Homo sapiens: one gene and its partners. The protein of the gene in region 2 purifies or fractionates together with the protein of the main gene of each other region. This does not show direct contact. Each region holds a gene or a part of one and is shown on either strand. Other genes may lie near its edges.

Region 1 (7,031 bases), on a different chromosome or scaffold from region 2:
GCTGAGGCAGGAGAATGGCGTGAACACGGGAGGCGGAGCATGCAGTGAGCCGAGATAGCGCTACTGCACTCCAGCCTGGGTGAAAGAGCGAGACTCCGTCTCAAAAAATAAAAGTGAATTAAAAATCTAAATGACCATCAACAGAGCATTGCTTAATAGAATGTAATGTAACTATACTATGGAATATGGTATAGCAACTATATGATTCTCACAGGGAAGGACGTCACTGATACTATTAAGTCAAAAAGGCTGTCAAACAATACATAAGAATAGTTAATATTTATGGAATGTTTACTATTCCAGCCATATTAATACACCAAATGCTCATACCTACATCCTAAATTAGATGCCATAATAACGATCCCCAATTTACCAATGAGGAATCAGGCTCAGAGACAAGGGAAAATAGGCTGTGTGTCAGACACAAGCTACTATAATGTCTCTGAGATGAAAACACAAAGCATGGCCTCATTTTTGCAAACAGAAAAGCAAACAAATGCAGACACTATGCATATACACATACAAATACCTACATGTGCACAGGAAAGATCTGAAAGGAAACATAATACTCTTAACAGTGTTTATCTCTGGAAAGCAGGACTGAGGGAGGGGACATTATTCCTTTTGATTCACCCATATTGCTTGACACCAAGTGTATATATAGTACTTTTTTTTTTTTTGAGACAGTCTCATTCTGTCACCCAGGCTGGAGTGCAGTGGCACAGTCTCAGCTCACTGCAACCTCTGCCTCCTGGGTTCAAGCGATTCTCGTGCCTCAGCCTCCCAAGTAGCTGGGATTACAGGTGCCCGCCACCATGCCCGGCTAATTTTTGTATTTTCAGTAGATAAGGGGTTTCACCATGTTGGCCAGGGTGGTCTCGAACTCCTGACCCCAAGTGATCTGCCTGCCTTGGCCTCTCAAAATGCTGGGACTATAAGCATGAGCCACCACACCTGGCCTATGTCCTACTTTTATAATTTGCAGTTAAGAAAACTGTAAAACTGCCCGGCGCGGTGGCTCAAGCCCGTAATCCCAGCACTTTGGGAGGCCAAGGCGGGCGGATCACAAGGTCAGGAGTTCGATACCAGCTTGGCCAATATGGTGAAACCCTGCTTCTACTAAAAATAATTTTTAAAAAAATTGGCCAGGTATGGTGGCGGGAGCCTGTAGCCCCAGCTACTTTGGAGGCTGAGGCAGAAGAATCTCTTGAACCCGGAAGGCGGAGGTTGCAGTGAGCTGAGATTGTGCCATTGCACTCCAGCCTGGGCGACAGAGGAAGACTCCATCTCAAAAAAAAAAAAAAGAAAACCATAAAACTAGCTAGCATCGACTGGCTCACACTCATGGAACTTCACTACAAACCTGTGAGAGTGGTACTATGTTATCGTCTCCAATTTACAAAAAAGAAAATGAAGTACAGAGACAGGTAACTTGCCCAAGTTCATGATGAGTAAGCAGTGCAGCTGGGATCTGAACCTAGCACCAGGGATCTTAACTACTGCACACACTGTTCCAGAAATTTAAAACCAAAAAAGACAAGGGGGAGAGAGGGAGGGGCGTGAAGGAGAGGAAACTGGTGCAGGGCTGTCAGGGGTGGCAGCTGAAGGCAGTACTCACTGTACTGGATGTAGGGGTGGTCACGAGGGATGCGGTCCAGGCTGATATCATGCTCCTGGCGTCGGGGTATCTCTGAGTCAGCCATGCGGGGTGACAGGGTGACAATGAGGCCCTCCACAAACTTGATGGCGTGGGTGCGGATGCCGTCATTGTCAGAGTCCAATAGCAGGATGATGTCCCCCGCCATGGCAGATACCATGTCCCAGCAGGCCTCCTGTAGCTCGCTAATGACCCGTGACTTTACCATCCACTGCCAGCAGGCCAGGAAGGAATGGAAGAGACACACAAAGAGGTGAAGACAACGCATCAATCACCAACACCCTCTGCCAATACCCAGAGAACCATGAATGATGAATACATTCATTTGGTTAACAGTTACTGAGTTCCAACTCTGCCCCAGCCCAGTGCTCGGTGATGCTGGAGACAGGACTGAGTAGTGGCCAGGCCTCGCCCTGCCCTCATGGGGATGCAGAGAGTGACCACTCAGTGTGATGAAGGCACACATCTTCAGGGTAAAGGACTAACAGTGCTGACTTCACAAGGTGGTGGTGATTAAATGGATTCATTCGTTTTATTAATGCTAATGTACATCACACCATAGAGTGTTCTTTTCCTATCACACTCCATAATCAATATTTATGTGATTCATTAATTAAGGTCTACCTCCCTCCTTGGGTTATGAGCACTGTGAAGGCAGTAAGCTGTCTTGGTCACTGCTGTGTCCCCAGCATCACCTAGCCCAGGGCTAAGCACAGAGGACATACTCAGGGAATGTCTGTTGAGTGAATAAACGGATGGTCAATGGAAGGAATGAAGGTTAAGTGCAACTTCCTGACCTAGGAGACAACGTTAGCTCTCCATGTTATCTGTTCCCACAGACCAGTGGCACATCTTGCCCATAAAGAGTATGCTCGGATGCTGGTTTTGAACCCCAACATATTAGTTTGTCAACGAGACATATCAGGCAGGATGGCCCTGGGTGGGGAGGGCGCTCTCACCTGCAGGGCCACCTTGTAGAGCTGGGTCATGGTGAGGATAGCCTTCTTCACCACGTTCACATTCTCGTCCCTCAAGAGCATGTTGAGGTTTGCAATGAGTTTCAGCAGCAACTCAATGTCTCGCTTGCTGAGGGATGGAGAAAAAAGGGGCGAGGTCAAGGTGTGGTCTTAGAGCAAGTAGGAGGAGCCTGAGGTCCAGGAGGGAAGGGAAATCAGGGACCTGTCTCAGGGGACCGGAATGGCACATCCAGAAGCTGGGAACAGTGCTTGGTGCCTCCAGACTGAGCCGCCCCTGAACCCTCTATCTAGACTGGTCCTGTAACACCAACTCCTTTGCTCTCTCAGGGCCCTGCTGTTCACATAAGGGACAGTAGGGGCAGACAACTGTGTGAATTTGGACAAGCGACTTCACCTCATTTAGAATAATAGTATCTATCCAATTGTTTATGCAATTTTTTGGGAAAATTGCAACAATACTTGTAAAGTGCTTAGAAGAGTGCCTGACATGCAGAAAGCATTCAGTAAACACCAAAAAGCATTCGGTAAACACCAGCCATTGCTACTTTAAAGCACTTTGTTTTCTGTAATCACTAGTTTTGCTTGCCTCAGTCTGAGGGCTCAAAAAGTAGGGACCCTTTCCTAGCTTGGCAATAACCCCAGCAGGGTCATTTTCATTGAAGAAAAAAATGAAGGGCCTCCAACAAATGTTCAATGAATAAATAGGAGCTCAGCACAGAATTTTCACAGCATACATTACAATCTGAAATATTAATTAAATCAGTCAAAAAATATGAAACTTAGCTGTCAGCTACATGAAGGCAGGAATAATACGTTTTTGCTCACTGCTATACTACAGCCTAACATGGATGCCTGGTACGACAGCAGTCACATGGTATGTATTTGCTGAATGGACTTTTTACAAATTCAGAAAATTTACCACAAATTCTCCCAGTAAATGGGGAGATAGGATATTTGGGTTCTGGCATTGCAGACATGAGTTAAAATCCCAGCCTTGGCCAGGCGCAGTGGCTCACGCCTGTAATCCCAGCACTTTGGGAGGCTGAGGCAGGTGGGTCACCTGAGGTCAGGAGTTTGAGACCAGCTTGACCAACGTGGTGAAACCCCATCTCTACTAAAAATACAAAATTGGCCGGGCATGGTGGCGGGCACCTGTAACTCCAGCTACTTGGGAGGCTGAGGCAGGAGAATCACTTGAACCTGTGTGGTGGAGGTTGCAGTTAGCCGAGATCGCACCATTGCACTCCAGCCTGGGCAACAAGAGCGAAACTCCATCTCAAAACAAAAACAAAAACAAAAACAAAAAAAAACAACAACAGAAAACAAAATTAGCTGGGTGTGGTGGCAGGCACCTGTAATCCCAGATACTCGGGGGGGCTGAGGGAGGACAATCACTTGACTCAGGAGGCAGAGGTTGTAGTCAGCCGAGATTGCACCACTGCACCCCAGTCTGGCCGACAGAGTGAGATTCCATCTCAAAAAAATAATAAATAAATAAAATCCCAGCCTTGCCACATTCTGGCTGTGTGACCTTAAGAAAATTCACTTCACCTCTCTGAGACTGTTTTCTCTTCAGTTAAAGGGTCAAACAACTGATCCATAGTATTACGAATAATGAAGCTGCTCAAGCATTTAATACAGTGCCTTACAAACAAATATTTAATACACAGTAGCTAGTCTACTTCCTCCCAGTCACAAAGCATCCAGTAAAGCTTTAATAAACAAATGAGCAAGTGACCAGCTTGAACAAGTCACTTGACCATTCTGAGCCTGTTTCCCTTTCTGTAAAAAGAGGATAACCACAGTATCCATCGAGGCTGCCATAATTACGGAGATAACACGGGAAAGGACCTGACACAGCGCAGGGCACAGTACGTGTTCCATGTGGTGACTGTTATGTTCAACTCATTCACGTGTGCAACAAATACGTAGTCAGCCCCTACTAGGTGACAACACTGCTCCAGGCAGGTACTGGGGACAAAGTGGCCAGCAAGACAGAAAAAGTCAAGCCCCGTCCTCACAGAGCTGATATTTTGCGGGAAGAATCAAGGTTATTTCAATGAGTGAGGAACACTGTAAAGAACAGTGAAGGTGGGGTGCCTGAGACATGGGGCTGCATGGGAGCGGGCAGGAAGGAATTTCTGAGGAAGAGACCTGAGGGAAGGGAGGGGAGAGCCAGGTGGCAACCTGGGGACGAGGGCCCCTAGCAGGAACAGCAAGCAGACAGGCTGCGAAATCCAACTGTGACTTCTGAGGAGCAGGGGAGACAGAGAGGATCAGAAGTGAGATGAAGCCGAAGTGAGAGTTTGGGTTTCCACCTAAGTAAGCTGATGAGCCAGCTGGGGTCTGAGAGCAGGGGTGTGCCAAGACTGATTTACATTTAACAGCGTCACTCTGGCTGCTGAGTGCAAGAGTGGAAGCGGGAAATGAGTGCGGTGATTCCTCTTTGGGGGATGAAATGCCCTGGAACGAGATTGTGAACGTGCTAAATGCCACTCACTTGTTCACTTTAAAATAGCTGATTTTTGCTGGGCGTCGTGGCTCATGCCTGTAATCCCCGCACTTTGGGAGGCCAAGGTGGGCCAATCACTTGAGGTCAGGAGTTCAAGACTGGCCTGGCCAACATGGCAGAAACCCCATCTCTACTAAAAATACAAAAATTAGCCAGGCATGGTGGCACGCACCTGTAATCCCAGCTATTCAAGGAGGCTGAGGCACAAGAATCTCTTGAGCCTGGGAGGTGGAGGTTGTAATGAGCCAAGATTGCGCCACTGTACTCCAGCCTGGACAACAGAGCAAAACTCAGTCTCAAAAAAAAAAAAAAGGCCAGGCACAGTGACTCACACCTGTAATCCCAACACTTTGGGAGGCCAAGGCGGGCAGATCACCTGAGGTCAGGAGTTTGAGACCAGCCTGGCCAACATTGCAAAACCCCTTCTCTACTAAAAATACAAAAATAAGCCGGATGTGGTGGCGCATGCCTGTAATCCCAGCTACTTGGGAGGCTGAGGCAGGAGAATAGCTTGAACCCGGAAGTCGGAGGTTGCAGTGAGCCGAGATTGCGCCACTGCACTCAAGCCTGGACAACAGTTGAGCGAGACTCCGTCTCAAAACAAACAAACAAACAAAAGATTAAAAAAAAAAGCTAATTTTGTTATATGAATTTCAATTTAACTAAAAAGAAAAAGAAGGGAGCCAGAGAGAGACCACTGAAGTCATCAGGTAGGAGGAAAGGGTGGCTTGGGCCTGCATAGTGGCAGAGGAAGTGATTGACAAACGGTCAGATGCTACAGATATTCTCAAAGTGGAGCCCACAGTCCTTAGTGATAATGTAGATGTGAAGTGTGGAAGAAGCAGAGGAATCACAGATGACCCCAGGGTTTCCATCTTATTAAGTATTTGCTGGGGAATCAGTGTGTATGAGAGAGAGAAAGGGTCTGGGAAGCAGAGGGCAGGCCTCTCAGTGGTGGCCTCCAGGCCAGGCCACGAGCTGAAGGCTGCCACCAGTGAGAATGCTCCCGGGGCTCCGTGCCTCGCCCCATACCATGCCTCCTCGATGAAGCCGATGACAAATTTTCGCACTTCGATTGACTTGTCTGCTTGGAATGCGATGATCTCCTGCCAATGTTAGAGAGAAAGTGGATCAGGGCTACACAAGGATCCACATCCCCTTTCCCCTACACCACACCCCTTTCTCTTCTGTCAGTCACTCACATCCAGGAAGTTGTCCAGTAGTGTGGGGTCTTTGTTGATGATCAGCTCCTGGACCTGGAAGGAGATTGGGGGTGGGGAGGAGGAATACCCATATAAAACGAGGGGCCAATCAATGCAGACAGGAGAGTAGAGGGGAAGACAGCAGAGGGCTAGGCAGCAGATACACTCATTTCAATGCCTGGCTCTGCTTCTCCCTACCAAGGGTGCTATGCTCTGGGCATGGTCTCTGAACCTCAGTTTGCTCTTCTATAAAATGAGACTCTTAAACATCAACTCAAAAGGGATGTTAGGAGGCTACAATGAGATCCTACAAGGCACAGGTCCTGGTAGATAGTGAGGACATGACACAGGAGGGGGCTGAAAAAAAGAGGAAAGTGCCCCAAGGCTCAGGCCTTCCTGAGGTTTGGCCTCCATTCACCTGTCCATCAGTTCTCCCCACTCTCCTTCTGCTTCTGCTCCCTACTTCACATTGCCATGATTCAGCAAACATCTTCACAGTGAGAACCCAATTCCTGAAGCCCTTGTGCCTGCCAGGCTCTTTGGAGTAAGCCCTTCCCATGGACATCCTCCAATAAGCAAAGAGCTGGCACAGGACCTGGCTGCTACAACTCAAGCTACTATTGCTAAACGGCCTCATGACCACCCATGGGGGAGGCACCAGGTGCATCCACTCCACCTCGGAG
Region 2 (4,577 bases):
GCAGGGTGAACCATGCTGCAGTGGCTGTCGGGCATCGGGTATACTCCTTCGGGGGTTACTGCTCTGGTGAAGACTATGAGACACTGCGTCAGATAGATGTGCACATTTTCAATGCAGGTAAGCCAATGCTGGGGCTGTCCCTGGGTCCCCACATCAGGGTGGGAACGGGCTGCTGATGAGGTTTGGCTGTGGTCTCTGGGACCAAGGGGATTGGGGACAAACATCTGGTTTGGGAAAAGTGGACAGCCTGGAGGGAGGTTCCCAGGGCTGAGCAGAGCTGTGCCCACAGTGTCCTTGCGTTGGACAAAGCTGCCCCCGGTGAAGTCTGCCATCCGTGGGCAAGCTCCTGTGGTACCCTACATGCGCTATGGACACTCAACCGTCCTCATCGACGACACAGTCCTCCTTTGGGGCGGGCGGAATGACACCGAAGGGGCCTGCAATGTGCTCTATGCCTTTGACGTCAGTGAGTATGGATCTCAGAGAGGCTATGTCCTTCCAGATGTTGCCTCAGTTGCCCAAGAAAGGTTTGGGTTGGGGGTCTTGGGGAGTAGAGTACCCCAGAGCTGAGGAGGGACTGTCATAGAGGGTGCTTAGTTGAGCCATTTTCTCATCTCCTTCAGATACGCACAAGTGGTTCACACCCCGAGTGTCAGGGACAGTTCCTGGGGCCCGGGATGGACATTCAGCCTGTGTCCTAGGCAAGATCATGTACATTTTTGGGGGCTACGAGCAGCAGGTAGGTCTGGGAATAAAATAAGAGGTTTAGGGTGGGACTGAGAAAGAGGGGAAGGGCAATTTAGGATGGTGAAATGGGAGGCTTTGGCTTGTTTGCAGGTTTTGAGGGGAGGGATGGAGGGTCAGAGAGTGACCATTGGCTCCCTCTTTTCTTCCTCCTTTTCTCTTCCTACTCAGGCGGACTGTTTTTCCAATGACATTCACAAGCTAGATACCAGCACCATGACATGGACTCTTATCTGTACAAAGGTCTGCTCTTTCTTTTTTTTCCCAAATCCCCACCCTCTGTTGAAGCAATGATAGGAAGCTCAGTCAGAGGAGATCCTCTTCCAGTCTTTGTGCTGACCCCTCCACCATCTCTCTGCCTCTGCCCAGGGCAGCCCTGCACGCTGGAGGGACTTCCACTCAGCCACAATGCTGGGAAGTCACATGTATGTCTTTGGGGGCCGTGCCGACCGCTTTGGGCCATTCCATTCCAACAATGAGATTTACTGCAACCGCATTCGAGTCTTTGACACCAGAACTGAGGCTTGGCTGGACTGTCCCCCGACTCCAGTGCTGCCTGAGGGGCGCCGGAGCCACTCGGCCTGTGAGTGTTTGTTACTTCCCTGTGGAGTTCCCTTCCTGCCCTCTTCACACTCCTGACACTTCCTCTCTCCTTCCAGTTGGCTACAATGGGGAGCTGTACATCTTTGGTGGTTATAATGCAAGGCTGAACCGGCACTTCCATGACCTCTGGAAGTTTAATCCTGGTAAAGAGCACTGCATTTAGGGCAGGAACAAGGAGCAATTGAGGTGGGAGGAAAAGAAAATAATCCTGAGGCGGTGAGGGATGGGGGTGGGGAAGATACCTGGACTAGGCAGGTATTGAACTTCCATATAAATTTCTCTTCAGTGTCCTTTACCTGGAAAAAGATTGAACCGAAGGGGAAGGGGCCATGTCCCCGCCGGCGCCAGTGCTGCTGTATTGTTGGTGACAAGATTGTCCTCTTTGGGGGTACCAGGTTAGAAGGAGAGAGGGAAGGGGCTCAGGGAAGTCACTAATGGGAGAGTGGGAGGTATTTGAAAAGGGGGTTTCGTGGGTAGTTTTTGTCCTACTTTCATCTCTCTTTTGATCCCGACAGTCCATCTCCTGAGGAAGGCCTGGGAGATGAATTTGACCTTATAGATCATTCTGACTTACACATTTTGGACTTTAGTAAGTATAGTTATTCCTGAATTGCTCCTGCCATCAAGGTCCCTGTCTTTGGGTGGTGATATCCAGGACTGGATCCTTTCCTCACCTTTGACCATCTCCTTTCCACAACTTCTCCCTTAAAGGCCCTAGTCTGAAGACTCTGTGCAAACTGGCCGTGATTCAGTATAACCTAGACCAGTCCTGTTTGCCTCATGATATCAGGTACAGCGAGTGGTTGGAAGGGAGGGATTGAGTGAGGGTGAGTGAGCAGCACAGGTGTGACCTGATTAGCTTGGTTTCAGTATGGAGGAGACAGACATTTTTGTTCTGCTGGAGATGTAGTGTACTTGTGGGAAATGAGATGGAAGGAGGTGAATTGACAGCCATCATATAAAACTGTCAGCAGAATAAATTATATGAAAAAAAAATACAGCTCGGCAGCATCACTTTCTGAGACCTAAGCTTATACAGTTATTTTTGTGACCATGCTGAGAACAACTGATTAAATCTTAGAACCTAGCTGCAAAGTAAAGACAAGTTTAGGAGCCTCTGGATCACATTGGTTCCAGAAGATCTGGCTGCTTCCCTTTGAATTTCGTTCTTAGGTTCCAATTAACCACCAGATGTTACTTTATGTATAATTTTTCAGGTTCAAATTAACCACCAGATGTTACTTTGTATATAATTTTTCCTGTCTGGGTCATTCTGAGATACTTCGTCTCTTTGTATCAGTTCAGTTTAACTCTTGCTGGCTGGGCATGGTGGCTCATACCTGTAATCCCATCACTTCGGGAGGTTGAGGTGGGCAAATCAGTTGAGGTCAGGAGTTCGAGACCATCCTGGCCACATGGTGAAGCCCTGTCTATACTAAAAATACAAAAATTAGCTGGGCATAGTGGCAGCCACCAGTAGTCCCAGCTACTTGGGAGGTTGAGGCAAGAGAATTGCTTGAACCCGGGAGGCGGGGGTTTCAGTGAGTCAAGATTGTGCCACTGCACCACTGTACTCCAGCCTAGGTGACAGAACAAGACTCAAAAAAAAAATTAATATGGTTGGGTGGGTGGGGAAGGCCTCAGGAAGGATAGGAGTGCTGAGTCAGAGCCTTAAAAGGATGGGAGTTAAGAGCAAAAATGGGTATTCCTGGTGGGGTGAGGCATTCCTGGTGAGGGTAAGGTGGAGGGGCTGCCTGGTTGGCTCTAAGCAAAGCAGGAAAGGCAGGTTGGGATGTTGACTGACATGTATACACAGATCTCAGGTGCCTGGACACTGCAATATACATACATACATAAACATAAACCGGAAATCCATATGAGCTTGGAGGTAGAGGAGTGGGTGGTGTTGGATTTGGTGGTGGGTGGGTTCTGATTGTTCAACCTAGTAGGTCTCTTAAGTAAGAGGTGGCTGTGGGTGGTTGACCTTTAGGAAGTTGGAGAGACTGGTGTGTTTTTAGCTTGGTTCAAACATCCCTTAGCTTGGGCTGAGGGCCCCCTCTTCTTTCTGTCTCTTATTGTTGGCCTTCCAGGTGGGAGCTGAATGCCATGACCACCAACAGCAATATCAGTCGCCCCATCGTCTCCTCCCATGGGTAGGAGGAAGTTTCTGCCACCTCCCCTCCTGAGCCTGCTGTCATCTTCACTGCCCCTGCCCATCTGTCACCCACCTGCTCCTTTGACCCCTGGACTTGGTATACCTCCATGTGGAGTTGTTGGGCGAGAGGTGTTCTCTGTGCTGTGAATTCAGTGGGGAGCTGTAGCGGGGTGGGGGCTAGGTTCCTCCCCCCTTGGGCCGAGGGCCCCTTCCCCTTGGTGCTCTGTCCCCATCCACCTCCTTTCAGCTGCTCCTGGGCCTCAGCTCTGCCCAGGGCCAGCCAGGTTCTGCTGGGAAGGGAAGGGAATGGGGAGAAGGGAGAAGCAAGCAGTGTCTGAGCCTCAGGAGCTTCCCCCTCCCCCTTTGCCTATCCCCTCCCCTCTGCTTGAGCCTTGAGCCTTGACTGGGAGCTGAAAGGAGTTGCAGCTGTTGGCATGAGACCTCCTTCTCCCCGTCTTGGGGAGGTGGGGACCAGCAGATAAATCCCACCCTTCCTTGAGCTGTCGCTGTACTCTGAAGTTCAGCCAGCTCAGATTTTATAAAAATTAATTAAAATCTCCAAACGTGTTGTGTGTTTTTGTGGAATATGGTGGAGAAGGCTGGAGTTTGCAGTGGGGGCAGGGTGCCGAGGACAAGCACCCTGAGGTTCTGGCTTCTCAGCCAAGGGTATTAGGAAACCAAATGCCACCAAGGCCTGGTCCAAGCTTCTCGGGCGTGGAACCCAGCACCCTGCGACTCGGGCAGAAGGTTGCGACAATGTCTCCAGAGCGGGTTATCCTTTGGGCCCGGCTCCCTGGCCCTCGACCGCGCAGTTTTCTGCCCATTCGTCACCACGTTGAGACCGGGAACGCCGGAAGAGGCGGGGCAGGGGCTGCCGTGAGCGGAAGCGGCGCCATTCGTCTTCCGAGCGCTACTGCCAGCTGATGCCGGGAGCTAACTACCGCGCCGGGGCCGGGGCCGGGGCCGGGGCCCGACGTCCCCGCGGGGCCCGGGACCGCGAGGAGGACGGCGGGGGCCTGGAGCCCGCGGCCGTGGCCCGCGACCTATTGAGGGGTGAGGGCATGGGGCAGGGCGG
Region 3 (7,031 bases), 3.1 Mb from region 2:
TTGAGTCTGTGATCACTGCTTGGAAGCTTCAGCTGAGGGCTGCTGGGCATGACAACTTAAGGTCAAACTTCACTCAATGCTTCTCAGCTTCTGTAAGAGGGATGGATGAGACAGCCCCAGAAATCAATATACCTACCATCCTTCCACCAAAACTTATGAAGCATCTACTCTGTGCCAGCTCTGCACAAGGCACTGTGGCCACAGAGAAAGAAGAATGTCTGAGAAGCTTCTGCAGGCAGAGACCACTGGAGAAGATACCAGTGAAATCTAGGATAGGTCTAACTGCTTCAGCGTGCCTGTTATTCCTCATGCCTCGCTCCCCAACCAGCCTCCAGGTTCCCTTCTCTGCAACAAAGAGGTTCCTCCTGTGGACTTCACCTGGTACCACCCTCCCCTCCCGCCCCCCAGCTGGCTCCTGCCTGGGAGATCAATGGGTAAAGGGAAAGAACAATCTTCAGGCATTTCTCCCCTACTTCCTCCCTGCTTTGATGTATCTGGCAGCAGCTGCTTCTCTGCACAGCTCAAGTGCCAATGAGGTGGCCTCTCTTCTAAGGCTCCAGCCCTTCCTGGGCCCCAGTGACATCAGTGCCTCCCCCTTGCCCTTCCTAAGTGGGAACAGCACTTTGCTGCTGCTGGTCCCAAGTACCTCAATATCCTTTATTGGTTCCCTTAATCTTATATGTTATAAATAGCTTCTTCATTACATTCTCTTCAGAATCCCACCTTCCATTTCCTGCCAAGACCTCACAGATACAGATACCACCTCTAGTCCAAGTCAATTCCGTATCTCCAGCCCAGAAAAACCCCCAAGCTTTTCAGCAACCTGCTGGATGGTTCCTTTTGGATTCAAACTGCATGCATCTAAACCCAACCCACCATCATCACCCTCCCACAATTGTAAAAGATCCCAAGGCCTTCCAGCTACCTTGATGCCTTCCTCCTCTCCTTCCGCGAACATTACCAAGCTCTCTGAGTCTTCCTTCCCTTCAATTCACACTCTAACATATTTGGAGAACCACTGAATGGCCACCTAATTGGTCTTCCTGCCATCACACCCAGCCTGTGGCTTATAAAACATACATGGGGGATGTCTCCCCTGTTCAGGAACCTTACGCAGCACACTATTGTCCACAGAACACATTCTGAACCAAAGCCCCCTACAATGTAGTCTTCCCATAGCTGACTTTAATCTGCCCTAGCCCGCCCAACCAGTATGAACCCTATGTATGCACCCTCCCCTCCCCACTTCTGCCCCACCCATTCTTCAAGGCTCGCTGAGGTCTGTAGTGCTCTTGATGCCCTGCACTCTCACAGGCTATCTAGCCACGCGTGTGGCAAGGACTCTCGTGCTGCCACACATTGCCTCTGTTTGGTCTTGCCTGTGAGTCTGCATAGCCCTGACGAGAAGGGGTCCCGACATCCCCCACAGGGACGAATGCACAGGACATGCTTGTTAGATATGAGTAACATCCATTTCTGGTTTCAGAGCTGAGCCCCTGGCCTGGTGGAAGGGGCTAACCATGGCGGGGGCCAGGCAAAATGCACATTGATCCTGCAGCTCCATGAGAGCTGGAAAGGAGCTCCCAATAAACCAGAAGCTACTTCAGGGCCCCACAGAAGGAAGGAAGGAATCAGGGTGACATTTCCAGAGGGGCCATGAGTTCACCCTCACCTGCTGCTCCCATCATGCCCCCAAACCTGACATTATTGCACCAACCACCTCCCCCGACACCGTGCCCTGCCAGCCTCCTCTCCAATCAGGGAGCACAGGTGGGAGGAGACATGAGAACACAGAGGTGGCAAGGGGTCCCTGTGGAGGAGGGGATGCTCACCTTGAGGTTCCCATCAGCTGTGATTCGCAGGCGGTTGCAGGTCCCACAGAAATGCTCAGACATGGATGTGATGAAGCTGATCTGGCCTTGGAAGCCAGGGATTTTAAAGGCCTGGGCAGGGGAGAGTGGGAGCAAAAGGGCAGTGGAGGGGATGGGCTACTGAGCCCAGTTTCTCACTCCATGACATCAGAACCTCCACTCCTCAACCCTCTCCCAGAGGACCCCACGTGAAGCTCCACCCAAGGCCCTCAGGTGATAGAAGACTCTGGTAGGATGGATGACCCATGGGTTGACCTATGCCTGGCTTGCCCTAGATAAAAGCTGCTAAGGCAGGGACCTGTGGGCAGCATGTTTAGAAAAGTCTGCGTGGAAGCGGGATGAGCACCCCTCTCTGCCACTTCCTGGAGTGTGTCCTCTGACATGTTACTGAGCCCCCCACCCTAGCCGAGCCCACATCTTCATCCATGAAACAGGGAGGTGGTTGTGATAGCACTGATGCTTCCTGCTTAAATGGTACCATCCCACATCACAGCATCCCCACCACAGTGCAGCTCCCTGCTAGCTCTCCATCCTAGGGTGGAGGTACGACCTTCCTCCAGGCCTGCCCCACACCCTCCTGCTCCCTAACCTTGGCTGTGCTGGATTCCTCCTCTGGCACCTTCTCCAGCTCTGGCCACTGCTGCCGGACAGTGTCTAGCATCTCCTTATAGCTGACCATCTTCTTGAAGTTCCACTTGTTGCCTGTATTCGGGATGGGGGAAGGCAAGGGGAGCTTCTGAATCACAGTTGAAGGGGCCCCGGGGTCTTTGAGTCCATCCCCTGCCACAGCATAGCAATCAGTTCTCCAGCCTCTTGGAAGGGAGGGACGGGGGCTCTGCCTAAAACTGGTGGATTGAATCACATCCACAGCGGGCTCCGAGAAGCCACCAACAGCCCATCATAATCCTAGACTCACTGCCCCTGAGGTCAGCCATACCCAGTGGGTGAGCCACACTATGCGACCTGCAGGCCCAACCCCTTCTTCCCTCCCTCAACCCATCCCTGGTCACTGACCATCAAAGGGCATATACTCTATGAAGCGCACATCCAGGGGGAGGCCCTCAGTCAAGGCCGCAAAGTCCAGGAGTTCATCCTCGTTAAGGCCTCGCATCACCACACAGTTCACCTGGCCGGGGAACAATGGGACCATGAGGGCTGTGCCCCCTGCATTCTTTTGTGGAGATGACCCTTGGGGGCCTGGCACTCACTGAGGCCTTCCACTCAGGGACCCATTCCTTGCTTCTCCCACTCAGTTCTCTAAGTTACGGGATTCCTTGGGGTCACTGATTTTCTCGTTTCTCTCAAGGGTCGGCAGGGCTGGACCAGCAGGGAGAGAAGAGGTGGAAGGGTGCACGTACTTCAGCCATGCTGGCCAGAGCTGAGGGCTCTCAAGTGGGCCAAGGGGCGGTGAGGGGAAGGCCAGGGCAGTGTGGAGGGAAGTCGGGAATCTACGGCAGGGGCACGGCCTCACCTTCACAGGGTTGTAGCCCAGCTCGATGGCCTTGTGGATGCCCTCCATGACCTTGTGGAAGCCTGGGAGGGAGAAACAAGGATCCAGGAACTTCTGTCCTCTCTCCTCTTCCCCCACACCCCCACAGAAAAGCACCAGAGCCCATCTAGTCTGGAGATTGGCAAACGTTTTCTAAAACAGGCCAGAGTAATATCGTAGGCTTTGCAAGCCAAGAGGCAAAATTGAGGATCCGTGTAAGTACATGTCACAAAGTGTTGGCTAAATTCAAAATGTAATAGTAATAACTGACTACAGTGTCTTGTAAAACAGATCTACAAATGGGATACAATAATGCGATTCTTTTTGCAGGGACAATATTTTGCTTAAATGGGGTTCATAGTTAATGTTCCCTATCATTAACTGATTTTGAATGCTATCTGTAAAATGCATTCTTGGCTCAAAGGCTACATGAAAACAGGCAGGGGGCTAGATGTGGCCTGTGGGCCATAGCATGCTGACCCTGGATCTAGTTGAACCCTCTTGTAGTCTACGGGAGGAAACCAAGACCCAGAGTGAGGCAATGCTCTGCTCAAAGCCCCATGGCTCCATCTTTCAGAATGCAGGTTTTCCACTCCCGTTTCAGTGTTTTTTCCTCAACAGTCCATCAATTATTCACTCAACACATACTCTCTGAGCACCTACTACGCACAGGTGCTGTTCCAGGGCTGGTAAGCAATTATTGTCTCAACAATCATTAACCACAGTCAATGTGACCCCAGGCTGACTTCTCACTGCCCAGTTCTCTCATGCATCCAATCACTTGATCACCTACTGCATCCTGGCCCCCTCCAGCACCCCCAGCCTGCACAGCCTGGGTGGTCACCTGTGAGACAGGGTGCCTAGAGATGGCCTCCATGGTTTCCTTGCAGCATTTTCAGACTGCTCAGTGAGAGGGTAAAGGGAAAAATGTATAGCTTTGAAAAAAATAATGCTGCTAGGATAACCTAGAACTATAAGTTTTCTTTTCTGTAAAACACTCCCCTCCAAAGGCAGGTGGTGGACAAAAGAGTATGAATGGGAGGGAAGATCTGATGTCTCCAATCCATGTGCCAGGAAATAAGAGACAAAAAGGGAGAACGTGTTTGCGGGCAGTACAGCCCACAGATCCACCTCCCACTTTCCCACCGTAGAGCCCTTGCAGGTTCTGTACTCCTGCTCCCCCTCAGAGTATGTGCCATTGATTGAAACCCTCCAGTTCCTCAAGGCCAGCATGCATGCATCCTCCTTGAAGCCCTCCTAGTTCTCTCCTGCTAAGAGTTCTTTCTTCCTCTCTGTAACTCTTTAATCAGTACCACAAGACAAGCAAAGGCTGTCCCATGGAATGACATCTTTTGGCCCTTAGCAGCCTGTAAGGACAGGGCAATGTCTTATGTGTCTTCTGTCCCCTCCACAGCACCTGGAGCAGGCCTCCATAGAGGAAAGAGACACCATGAGTGCTTCCTCAGCACATGGAGGGTATTAAGCAAGGCATCACACCCCGTTTAAGAAAAGGAAGGAAAGAAGGTGGTGGGGCTGATCTTGAAGCTGTTTCCAAGGAAGAGGAAGGAGATCTGGGTCTCCCTGCCACCCCTCTGATCCTCCAGAGTCCTCAGTCATGTACCCCCTCCCAAATATCAAAGGGTATCCCAACCTGAAGAGCCTTTGCCCCAACATGAGGTCCATGCCAAAGGGAAGCCAGGCACTGGTCTCCTGTGACCCAGAGCTCGAGGCTGGCTCCACCTGTCTACCTTGGGCCTCCTGAGGCAGGTGAGTGGAGGGTATGGCTGTGCCTGTAGTAGGAGGTGCATAGGAGGGGCTTATACCCAGGTGGGCACAGGGATAACCATGGGGGCCTGCTGGGGGACCCCCTCCTGGCAGCATACACCCAGACCCTGGCATCCCAGGGTGGCTACTTCCACCCTGGGCTGTCCCGTGTTTCTTCAGAGCTCATCGTAGAATGACCAACTCGGCCCAGTTTGCCACAGACTGTCTTGGTTTTAAAACTTCAAGTCCTTCATTCTAAAACCCCCTCAAGTCCTGGGCAAACTGGGGCTGGGGTGGTGGGGAGGTTGGTCACCCTAGGTCATTAGCGTCTGACCCCCAAAGTCCCTGACATACATTTGGCAAAGATGAGGGGTGAGAAATAAGTGCTTTGACTTACTGATAGCCCAGACACCAAGAGGAAGTGACCAGGCCCCTGGCTCAGCAATGGCCATGCCCTCCCCAGCTATGTGCAGGCCCTGGGAGGGACACCCACCCCATCCACATCCGCTCACCTTTCCTGCGGACAATGAACTCAAACTTGGCAGGCACCAGGGTGTCCAGGCTGATGTTGATGGCACTGAGACCAGCCTTCTGAAGCTGGGGCAGTAGCCGGGCCAGGTTGATGCCATTGGTGGTAACACCTATGGTTCTCAGCCCTTCCAGCCGCTGGAGCTGGGCTGTAAGGACAACAGAAAGGGGGTCAGACTGCTTGCTTGTTCTTGGTGAGGCCGGGAAAAGGGCTGGAAGGCAAAACTCTTTGTCCAGACAAGATGGATGGAAAAGAGGCTCTCTGCAGACCTATATTAACCAGGCCTAACTTAAAAAGAAAGCTAAGAATCAAAACTGACAAAAACAACCAAAAGATTAAGCATTGAGTGCTCTGTGCTAGGTGCTCTGCTGAGGGCTTTGCATACATTAGCTCATTGAAGCCTCACAATAACAATTATCTCATTTAGTAGGTAAGGAAAGAGGTGCTCTGAAAGATTATGAAAATTGCTTAATCTCACACAGTAAGAAGAGCTGGCATTTAAATCCATGTGTACTTGACTCAGGACTCTGCTCTTAACAACCAAGTACTACACAGGTCTTGATACTCTGTATAATGGAAACAAAAGTGTTTGAATTAAGTGCTATTTGACAGCTCCATTCTACCAAATATCCCTAGAAATAATGGAAGGATTTTAAAAATCCATAATAGCATTGGAAGGTAAGAAAGAATGCCGTAGATAGCCCAGAAAGGTAAATTAGTACTGAAAGAGAGAAAGCAGATGGAACCGACCAGACGGATAGAGACCACAGCTCAAAGTGCACCCAGGAGAAGGTTCTGTAAAAACAGGGAGTGACTAGTGTGCACGCAGCTTAGTAGTCACATGTACAGGAGCAGAGGGGTCCTACTACATGTCAGGGAGGTTGTCTAAGAGGGGAGTTATATTTGAAGGAGCTGGACAGGTTGGCCTCATCCTTCCCTGTCGGCACGGGAAGGCAGCAGAAGCATTTGCCTCAAGGATAAAGCACCAGTGCAGACACTTAAGCCAGCCATGGGGCTGTATTAGTTCCTTCTCATGCTGCTAATAAAGAAATACCTGAGACTGGGTAATTTATAAAGAAAAGAGGTTTCATTGACTCACAGTTCAGCATGGTTAGGGAGGCCTCAGGAAACTTACAATCATGGCAGAAGAGGAAGCAAACACGTCCTTCTTCACATGGCAGCAGCAAGAAATGTTGAGCAAAACAGGAAAAGCCCCTTATAAAAATCATCAGATCTCGTCAAAACTCACTATCATGAGAACAGCATGAGGGTAACCACCCCCATTATTAAATTACCTCCTACTGGGTCCCTCCCATGACACGTGGGGATTATGGGAACTACAATTCAAGAAGAGATTTGGGTGGGGACACAGCCAAAC
Region 4 (7,041 bases), on a different chromosome or scaffold from region 2:
TTTTTTGAGACGGGAGTCTTGCTCTGTCGCCCAGGCTGGAGTGCAGTGGCATGATCTCGGCTCACTGCAACCTCCGCCTCCCGGGTTCAAGCGATTCTCCTGCCTCAGCCTCCCAAGTACCTGGGACTACAGGCGAGCTTCACCACACTCGGCTAATTTTTGTATTTTTAGTAGAGACAGGGTCTCACTATATTGGTCAGGCTGATCTCGAACCCCTGACCTCAAGTGATCCACCCACCTGCGCCTCCCAAAGTGCTGGGATTACAGGCACGAGCCACCGCGCTGGCCTGTAAACATTTTTAAACTGTAACTTTTTCCACCTCCCATTATTCTCAGTGACAAATTTAACTTTAACAAGTCAATTTTAAAATAAGACCTTCAATTTGCAGTTGTTATTCCCAACATAAACAAGTAATATACATACCATGACGCTTAATATCTGATAAACAATCAGTATTTGCTGAATGAATGAATGGCCATTAAGGCTGCAAGACTCTTAGGACAGTAGGCAACCAAGTAAAACAAATTTATTAAAACGCTCAGAATGACTGGAGCAGGAACCAGTAACTAAATCCTGTCATACATGATTCCATTACTTGTTTGCATTACTATTCTTTTAAAATGAAAATTATGAGAAATCGGCCAGGCGCAGTAGTGGCTCACGCCTATAATCCCAGCACTTTGAGAGGCCGAGGCGGGTGGATCACCTGAGCTCAGGAGTTTGAGACCAGCCTGATCAACATGGTGAAACCCGTCTTTAATAAAAATACAAAAAATTAGCCAGGCATGGTGGTGGGCGCCTGTAATCCCAGCTACTTGGGAGGCTGAGGCAGGAGAATCGCTTGAACCCGGGAGGCAGAGGTTGCAGTGGGCCGAGATCATGCCACTGCACTCCAGCCTGGGCGACAGAGCAAGACTCCCGTCTCAAAAAAAAAAAAAAAAAAAAAAAAAAAAGAGCGAAACTCCATCTCAAAATAAATAAAAAAGTTTATAGGTTAATAACCACAGCACTCCAGCCTGGGCAACAAGAGCCAAATTCCAACTCAAAAAAAAAAAAAAAAAGAAGAAGAAAATTATGAGAAATCAAACTATTTCCTTTGCTACTTTCTCCATGCTAAAACTTAAAAGCATTTAAATCATACTTTAAAAGAATAAACCCAAAGTGTTGCTAACATTTACGTTCCGCCAACTTTTGCTACTCCAATTTTCTAAAGATGTGTATAACGCTTTAGACTGTTGTATAAAACGTAAATACTGGGACAATGAATGCAAACGAAATTACAATTAAGTTTACATATTATCCATCCCCATTAATTAACATTTCAATCAACCTTGAATTGTGATTGATGCTTATTAAATAAAGGAAGTGAGCTATGCCTAAAGATGCTTTCTTCATGTCAAAATCACAAGGAATATTACACATTAATTCATAATGAGCCTTTTACTTGTTCATACCAATTCTAATAAGCTAGTTAATTAGGATTTAAGTTGAGAAAAAAGCAAATATCAAATCTTTTTTTTTAACAGAAAGGTCTAAACAAAGCTAAATACACCAAATCTCTTAAAATCTTTGGGCTATACATTTGTAAAAATTATTCAACTACTGATCCCTTTTTTGGCGCAAAGACCTACACTACTTACAAAAGTAAATGAATAAGGGAACAAAACGTTAAAGGGGGAAATTCTGATGCAAACTAAACTACAGCTAATTTAACAAAATTGAAGCTTGTCGTAAGATCTAATTTTTTAAAAAGTTTTCGCATTTTAGATTCCACAACACGCATTCATTACAATAGTTCCGAAAATCATGTTTCAAAAGAGGTGTAGTCAGATTGACTTCATCTGCAGAAGGGCAACAAAACCCAATTGCTCATGAAGGGTTATGATTTTACTCGCAATCAGTTTCCCGAATGGCTACTTTGTTTCATTTCCCCATATTTAATACAAATACACAATGAGATGGTTTAAAAGTGTGCAACAATTTATAGGGACCAGATGTCAACAAATTAGCAGTCTAAAGCAAGGCTGACAAATAATACATCATGCCGATTTTTGTCCAGAATAATTATAATGGCGGAGGGGGGAGAAGATGTGAGAGAAGGGGTGGGAGAGGGGAATAAGAGCTTAACTCTACACGCACATCTCCCAAAAAGAGCTCTTTCTTTCCACCACGGGATTATTGTAAAGGGCCCCCAAGCTTTAGCTACTGTTCAGGCAGGGTGCGTTAGTTGTCAGCCTGGCTGGGATGGATTCGTGCAAGGGATGTCACTCAAACGCAAGTGAAAGTACGGTCCTTGCGACTTATTTCGAGTTTTCTTTGCAACAGCAGCCCAAGGCCGCTACTCTGCTACTTCTATCTAAAAAACAGAAAATCGGCAACCCCCGCATCATCAATCAAGCTGAGAAAGGAAGCTCTTGGGGCAAAGGGGCAACAGGGCACCCCCAAATCTCTGAGGCTCGCTCCAGGCAGAGGCAGCAACCTGAGCTGCTCTGGGGCCCCTGCGCTCCAGGGGACTCCCGGAGCCCCCGGGCCGCCTCCCCCGGCCGGCGCGGCGGGGAGGGCCCCACTCCACACCCCGGGCTCGCCCCGCGGTCCAGCCCCAGGGAGGTTAACCCCTTCGGCGCCCTCCACGCCCTCCCCAAGCGGGGCCCGGAGCCCCCGCCCTTCGACCTCCCCGGGACTAGGGGGTCCGGGTGGCTCAGGGGACGAAGGCGCGGCGGGCGCGGAGGCGGCGGGTGGCTCCGGCCTAGGCCCGGGCAGCGTGTCCCAGCGCCCTCCCCCACTCCCACACGCTCGCTCCGGGCAGGGCGCGGACGCCCGCCCGCCGCGGCGTCCGCCCGCCCGGGGCTCGGGCCCCTTCCGGCCGAAGGCGCAGACCGGCGGCTACCTGCGGGCTGTGGAGGGCCATGGCTGCCCGTTTCATTGGGACTCCGCGATCCTCCGGCTGCTCACGCTGCTTCCCCCGCCGCCGCCATCTTCTCGCCCGCACATACACACTCGCATCGGCCGCCGCGCCTGCGCACTGGCCGCGCGCCGCGGGGCGCGGGGAGGCCGGCCCGCTGCTGCGCCTGCGCGGCCGACAGGTGGGCGTGCGCCTGCCGGGCCGCGGACATCCCCTGCCCCGCCTGGAGCCTGCCGGACTCTGAGCCCCGCGACCCTCGGGCGGAAGCGGCCGGGCGGCTGCACACCAGGAGCCCGCCGAGGCCTGGCTGTGGATCCGGAAGGGGAGAGGGCAGGCAGGTAGAGGTGGCAACGCCAAGGCGCCGGCGGGCCCGGCTCCTCACCTACTGGGGGCCACCTGGGCCCCCGGAGCCCGGGAGTCGCGGGCTGAGGTCGGCCTGGGGCCCACGAGCCGCCCTCAGCGTACCTGGGCCCGGGCCTCGGGAGTGTTCGCATTAGATCCCCGAGGAGGGTCTGGTTTATGAAGATCCCGTTGCCGCGCATTCATTCATTTGTTCACTCTTCATTCACTCCCCAAGTCCTGCCTGGGCGCCTGGGCCACGCCTTTGGCTAGGCATTAGGGGAAAAAAGCAAAACAGACAAAAACAAAACGTAGGGCATAAAAGCACGCGTAAAGTGCTTGACATGAGGCCTGGCAAGTAGCAAACACTCAGCAAGTGCTACGTGTTGCACACGTGCGTGCGTGTGCACGGGCAAACCAGCCTTGGGGGTCGTTGGTTCATTCATTATTAAGAAACAGGGGCCCCTGCCTAACTGCACTGTTTTCCAGCCAGTGGGTCCACCCTTGGGTTTTGGCCCCTTTTCTAGCTGTGATTTCAGACAAGCGACTTTCCTTCCCTAAGCCTTGGTTTCCTCACCTGTGAATAAGACAAATATGTCATAACGCGTAAGATTTCTGTGAGGTTCAAATTAGATTAACGTGAGCACACTGGCCAAGAGAATAGTCAATAAAAATTGGCTACTGGGATTGTTATTAATAACCATTACTATTGGTTTCATTTATTCAACAAACACCTACAGAGAGTCTGCTCTTGCTAGACCGTACACTGAGCAGAGGAGATGAACAGGAAGATCCATTCCCACGTTACATAAAATAGGGAGCCTGGTCTCTTCATAAATGGGATGCCATGAAAAATATAAGTGGGCCAGGCGCAGCGGCTCACACCCGGAATCCCACACATTGGGAGGCCGAGGCGGGCGGATCACTTGAAGTCAGGAGTTGGAGACCAGCCTGGCTAATATGATGAAACCCCAACTCTACTAAAAATACAAAAATTGGTGGGATGTAGTGTGGCACACCAGGCGTCCCAGCTACTCAGGAGGCTGAGGTGGGAGGATCACTTGAACCCCGGAGACGGAGGTTGCGGTGAGCCGAGATCGTGCCACTGCACTCCAGCCTGGGTGACAGAGCGAGTCTCTGTCTCAAAAAAAAAAAAAGAAAGAAAGAAAGAAAGAAAAGAAAAGAAAAATATAAGTGGTAGGGAGGGGTTGTTCCAAAATAGAAGAGCTAGAAAACATAACCAAATACAATGTGTCATCTTGCTTGGATCCTGATATGTCTTTTAAGCTGGTTTTACTATTTGTTGACAATTGGAGACATTTGAATATGGATTGGATATGGGTGATCTTCGTGAATTATTGGTAATTTTATAGTGTAATAATTATACTGTGCTCACTGAGAGAATGTCCTTATTGTGAGGAGATGCATTCTGAAGAGTTGAGGAGTGAAGGCCATAATGCCTGTAAACTATTGTTTAATGGTTCAACAAAAGATAAAATCATGTACACACATAAACATTCAGGGAGAGACAGCAAATATGGCAAAATGTTTACTATTGTTGGCTCTAAGTAGTGCTATATATTTCAGCTTTTCTCTATGTTTGAAAATTTTTATAACAAAAAATTGGGGAAAACAATACAATATAGTGTCTGTGCTATAATTTTAACCATGGAAAAGCGATATCTGCACTTGGATAGAAACTGGGGGACGTGAAAACTCACTAGTGATTTATGGTTGTCTCTCTGGCTCGGTGCGGTGGCTCACACCTGTAATCTCAGCACTTTGGAAGGCTGAGGTGGGTGGATCACCTGAGGTCGGGAGTTCAAGACCAGCCTGATCAACATGGTGAAGCCCCGTCTCTACTAAAAATACAAAAATTAGTCGGGCGTGGTGGCAGGCGCCTGTAATCCCAGCTACTCAGGAGGCTGAGGCAGAAGAATCGCTTGAACCCGGGAGGCAGAGGTTGCAGTGAGCCGAGATGGCACCATTGCACTCCAGCCTGGACAACAAGAGTGAAACTCTGTCTCAAAAAAAAAAAAAAAAAAAAACATATATATATATATATATATATATATATATATATATATATATATATAGTTGTTTGTCTGATTTTTATCATACAGTTGCTTGAACAACAAATAAAAGTGATAATAAACAAAAGATCCCAGGCCAGGCACGGTGGCTCACGCCTGTAATCCCAGCACTTTGGGAGGCTGAGGCGGGTGGATCACCTGAGGTCAAAAGTTCGAGACTAGCCTGGCCAACATGGTGAAACCCCGTCTCTACTAAAAATACAAAAATTAGCTGGGCATGGTGGCGGGCACCTGTAATCCCAGCTACCTGGGGGGCCTAGGCAGGAAAATTGCTTGAACCCGGGAGGCGGAGGTTGCAGTGAGCTGAGATCACACCATCTCACTCCAGCCTGGGGGACAAAAGTGAGACTTTGTCTCACAAATAAATAAATATATAAATAAATAAATAAAAAAGATCCCAGTCTTCATTTTCAAATAATTCACATAGATATGAACACATACCTTCAGTACAAGGAAATAGATGTTAAAAGGAAGCTATGAACAAGCACTATGGCCTTCAGTGCTTAGCAGAGCCTGGTGATATACTTCGGCTGTGTCCCCACCCAAATCTCATCTTGGATTGTAATAATCCCCACGTGTCAAGAGTGGGGCCACGTGGTGATAATTGAATCATTGGCGTGGTTTTCCCCATACTGTTCTCATGGTAGTGAGTAAGTCTCACAAGATCTAATGTTTGTGTGTGTGTGTGTGTGTGTGTGTGTGTGTGTGGTTTTTTTGGTTTGTTTGGTTGTTTTTTTGTTTTTGTTTTTGTTTTTGTTTTTGAGACAGTCTTGCTCTGTCGCCCAGGCTGGAGTGCAGTGGCAGGATCTCAGCTCACCGTAACCTCCGCCTTCTGGGTTCAAGTGATTCTCCTGCCTCAGCTTCTGGAGTAGCTGGGACTACAGGCATGTGACACCACGCCCGGCTAATTTTCGTATTTTTAGTAGAGATGGGGTTTCACCATGATGGCCAGGCTGGTCTTGAACTCCTGACCTCAAGTGATCTGCCCACGTCAGCCTCCCAAAGTGCTGGGAATACAGGCGTGAGCCACCACGCCCAGCCTCTAATGGTTTTACAAATGAGAGTTCCCCTGCACAAGCTCTCTTGCCTGCCGCCATGTTAAGCGTGACTTTGCTCCTCATTTGCCTTCCGCCATGATTGTGAGGCCTCCCTTGCCATGTGGAACTGTGAGTCAATTAAACCTCTTTGCTTTATAAATTACCTAGCTTGGGTATGTATGTCTTTATTAGCAGCATGACAACCGACTAATACACCTGGTATCTCCCATGAGTCTGGGGACAGTGGCCTAGGCCTGGAGTCAAGACAGGCCCAAGTTCAAATCTGGAATCCCCCACTCACTAGCTGTGTGAACCTGGGCAAGTTACCTACATTTTCTGTGAATCTTTTGTAGAAGGTGGTGTGATGGGCAGAATAATGCCCCTCCCCTCAAAGATGTCCATGCCCCAACCTCAGAACCTGTGGATATATTACTTTACATGGTAAAAGGAACATTGCAAATGTGGTAATGTTAAAGGCTTTGAGATGGATTATCCTGGGAAATAACCTAATTATGACATGACTGGTGGGTCCCAAGTAATCACAAGGGTCCTTATGAGGGAAAGAAGGAGGGGCAAGAGAGTCAGGTCACAAGGAGATGTGAAAATAGAAGCAGAAAGAGAGAGGGAGAGATTTGAAGATGCTGCGCTGCTGGTGCCACGAGCCAAGGA

Evidence for each region.
Region 1: the proteins of KLHDC3 (region 2) and SYMPK purify together in Homo sapiens (affinity purification with mass spectrometry; 4 studies listed by BioGRID and IntAct, with this or other methods). This does not show direct contact.
Region 3: the proteins of KLHDC3 (region 2) and MOCS1 purify together in Homo sapiens (affinity purification with mass spectrometry; 4 studies listed by BioGRID and IntAct, with this or other methods). This does not show direct contact.
Region 4: the proteins of KLHDC3 (region 2) and USP10 purify together in Homo sapiens (affinity purification with mass spectrometry; 3 studies listed by BioGRID and IntAct, with this or other methods). This does not show direct contact.

What each region holds. Positions count from the first base shown.
Region 1 is NC_000019.10:45,846,134-45,853,164, forward strand, and holds part of SYMPK (symplekin), read right to left. Parts: intron 6,403-7,031; coding exon 6,349-6,402; intron 6,253-6,348; coding exon 6,179-6,252; intron 2,744-6,178; coding exon 2,617-2,743; intron 1,869-2,616; coding exon 1,619-1,868; intron 1-1,618. UniProt on the Homo sapiens protein: Scaffold protein that functions as a component of a multimolecular complex involved in histone mRNA 3'-end processing. Specific component of the tight junction (TJ) plaque, but might not be an exclusively junctional component. May have a house-keeping rule.
Region 2 is NC_000006.12:43,017,230-43,021,806, forward strand, and holds the end of KLHDC3 (kelch domain-containing protein 3), read left to right. Parts: coding exon 1-117; intron 118-289; coding exon 290-466; intron 467-623; coding exon 624-739; intron 740-915; coding exon 916-987; intron 988-1,113; coding exon 1,114-1,327; intron 1,328-1,403; coding exon 1,404-1,490; intron 1,491-1,633; coding exon 1,634-1,742; intron 1,743-1,862; coding exon 1,863-1,936; intron 1,937-2,058; coding exon 2,059-2,137; intron 2,138-3,437; coding exon 3,438-3,504; 3' UTR 3,505-4,065; downstream 4,066-4,577. Other genes in the region: RRP36 (ribosomal RNA processing protein 36 homolog), read left to right, coding at 4,426-4,555. UniProt on the Homo sapiens protein: Substrate-recognition component of a Cul2-RING (CRL2) E3 ubiquitin-protein ligase complex of the DesCEND (destruction via C-end degrons) pathway, which recognizes a C-degron located at the extreme C terminus of target proteins, leading to their ubiquitination and degradation.
Region 3 is NC_000006.12:39,910,432-39,917,462, forward strand, and holds part of MOCS1 (molybdenum cofactor biosynthesis protein 1), read right to left. Parts: intron 5,802-7,031; coding exon 5,637-5,801; intron 3,405-5,636; coding exon 3,343-3,404; intron 2,998-3,342; coding exon 2,886-2,997; intron 2,574-2,885; coding exon 2,461-2,573; intron 1,944-2,460; coding exon 1,833-1,943; intron 1-1,832. UniProt on the Homo sapiens protein: Isoform MOCS1A and isoform MOCS1B probably form a complex that catalyzes the conversion of 5'-GTP to cyclic pyranopterin monophosphate (cPMP).
Region 4 is NC_000016.10:84,695,959-84,702,999, reverse strand, and holds the start of USP10 (ubiquitin carboxyl-terminal hydrolase 10), read right to left. Parts: upstream 3,001-7,041; 5' UTR 2,925-3,000; coding exon of another isoform or gene 2,910-2,924; coding exon 2,889-2,909; intron 1-2,888. UniProt on the Homo sapiens protein: Hydrolase that can remove conjugated ubiquitin from target proteins such as p53/TP53, RPS2/us5, RPS3/us3, RPS10/eS10, BECN1, SNX3 and CFTR.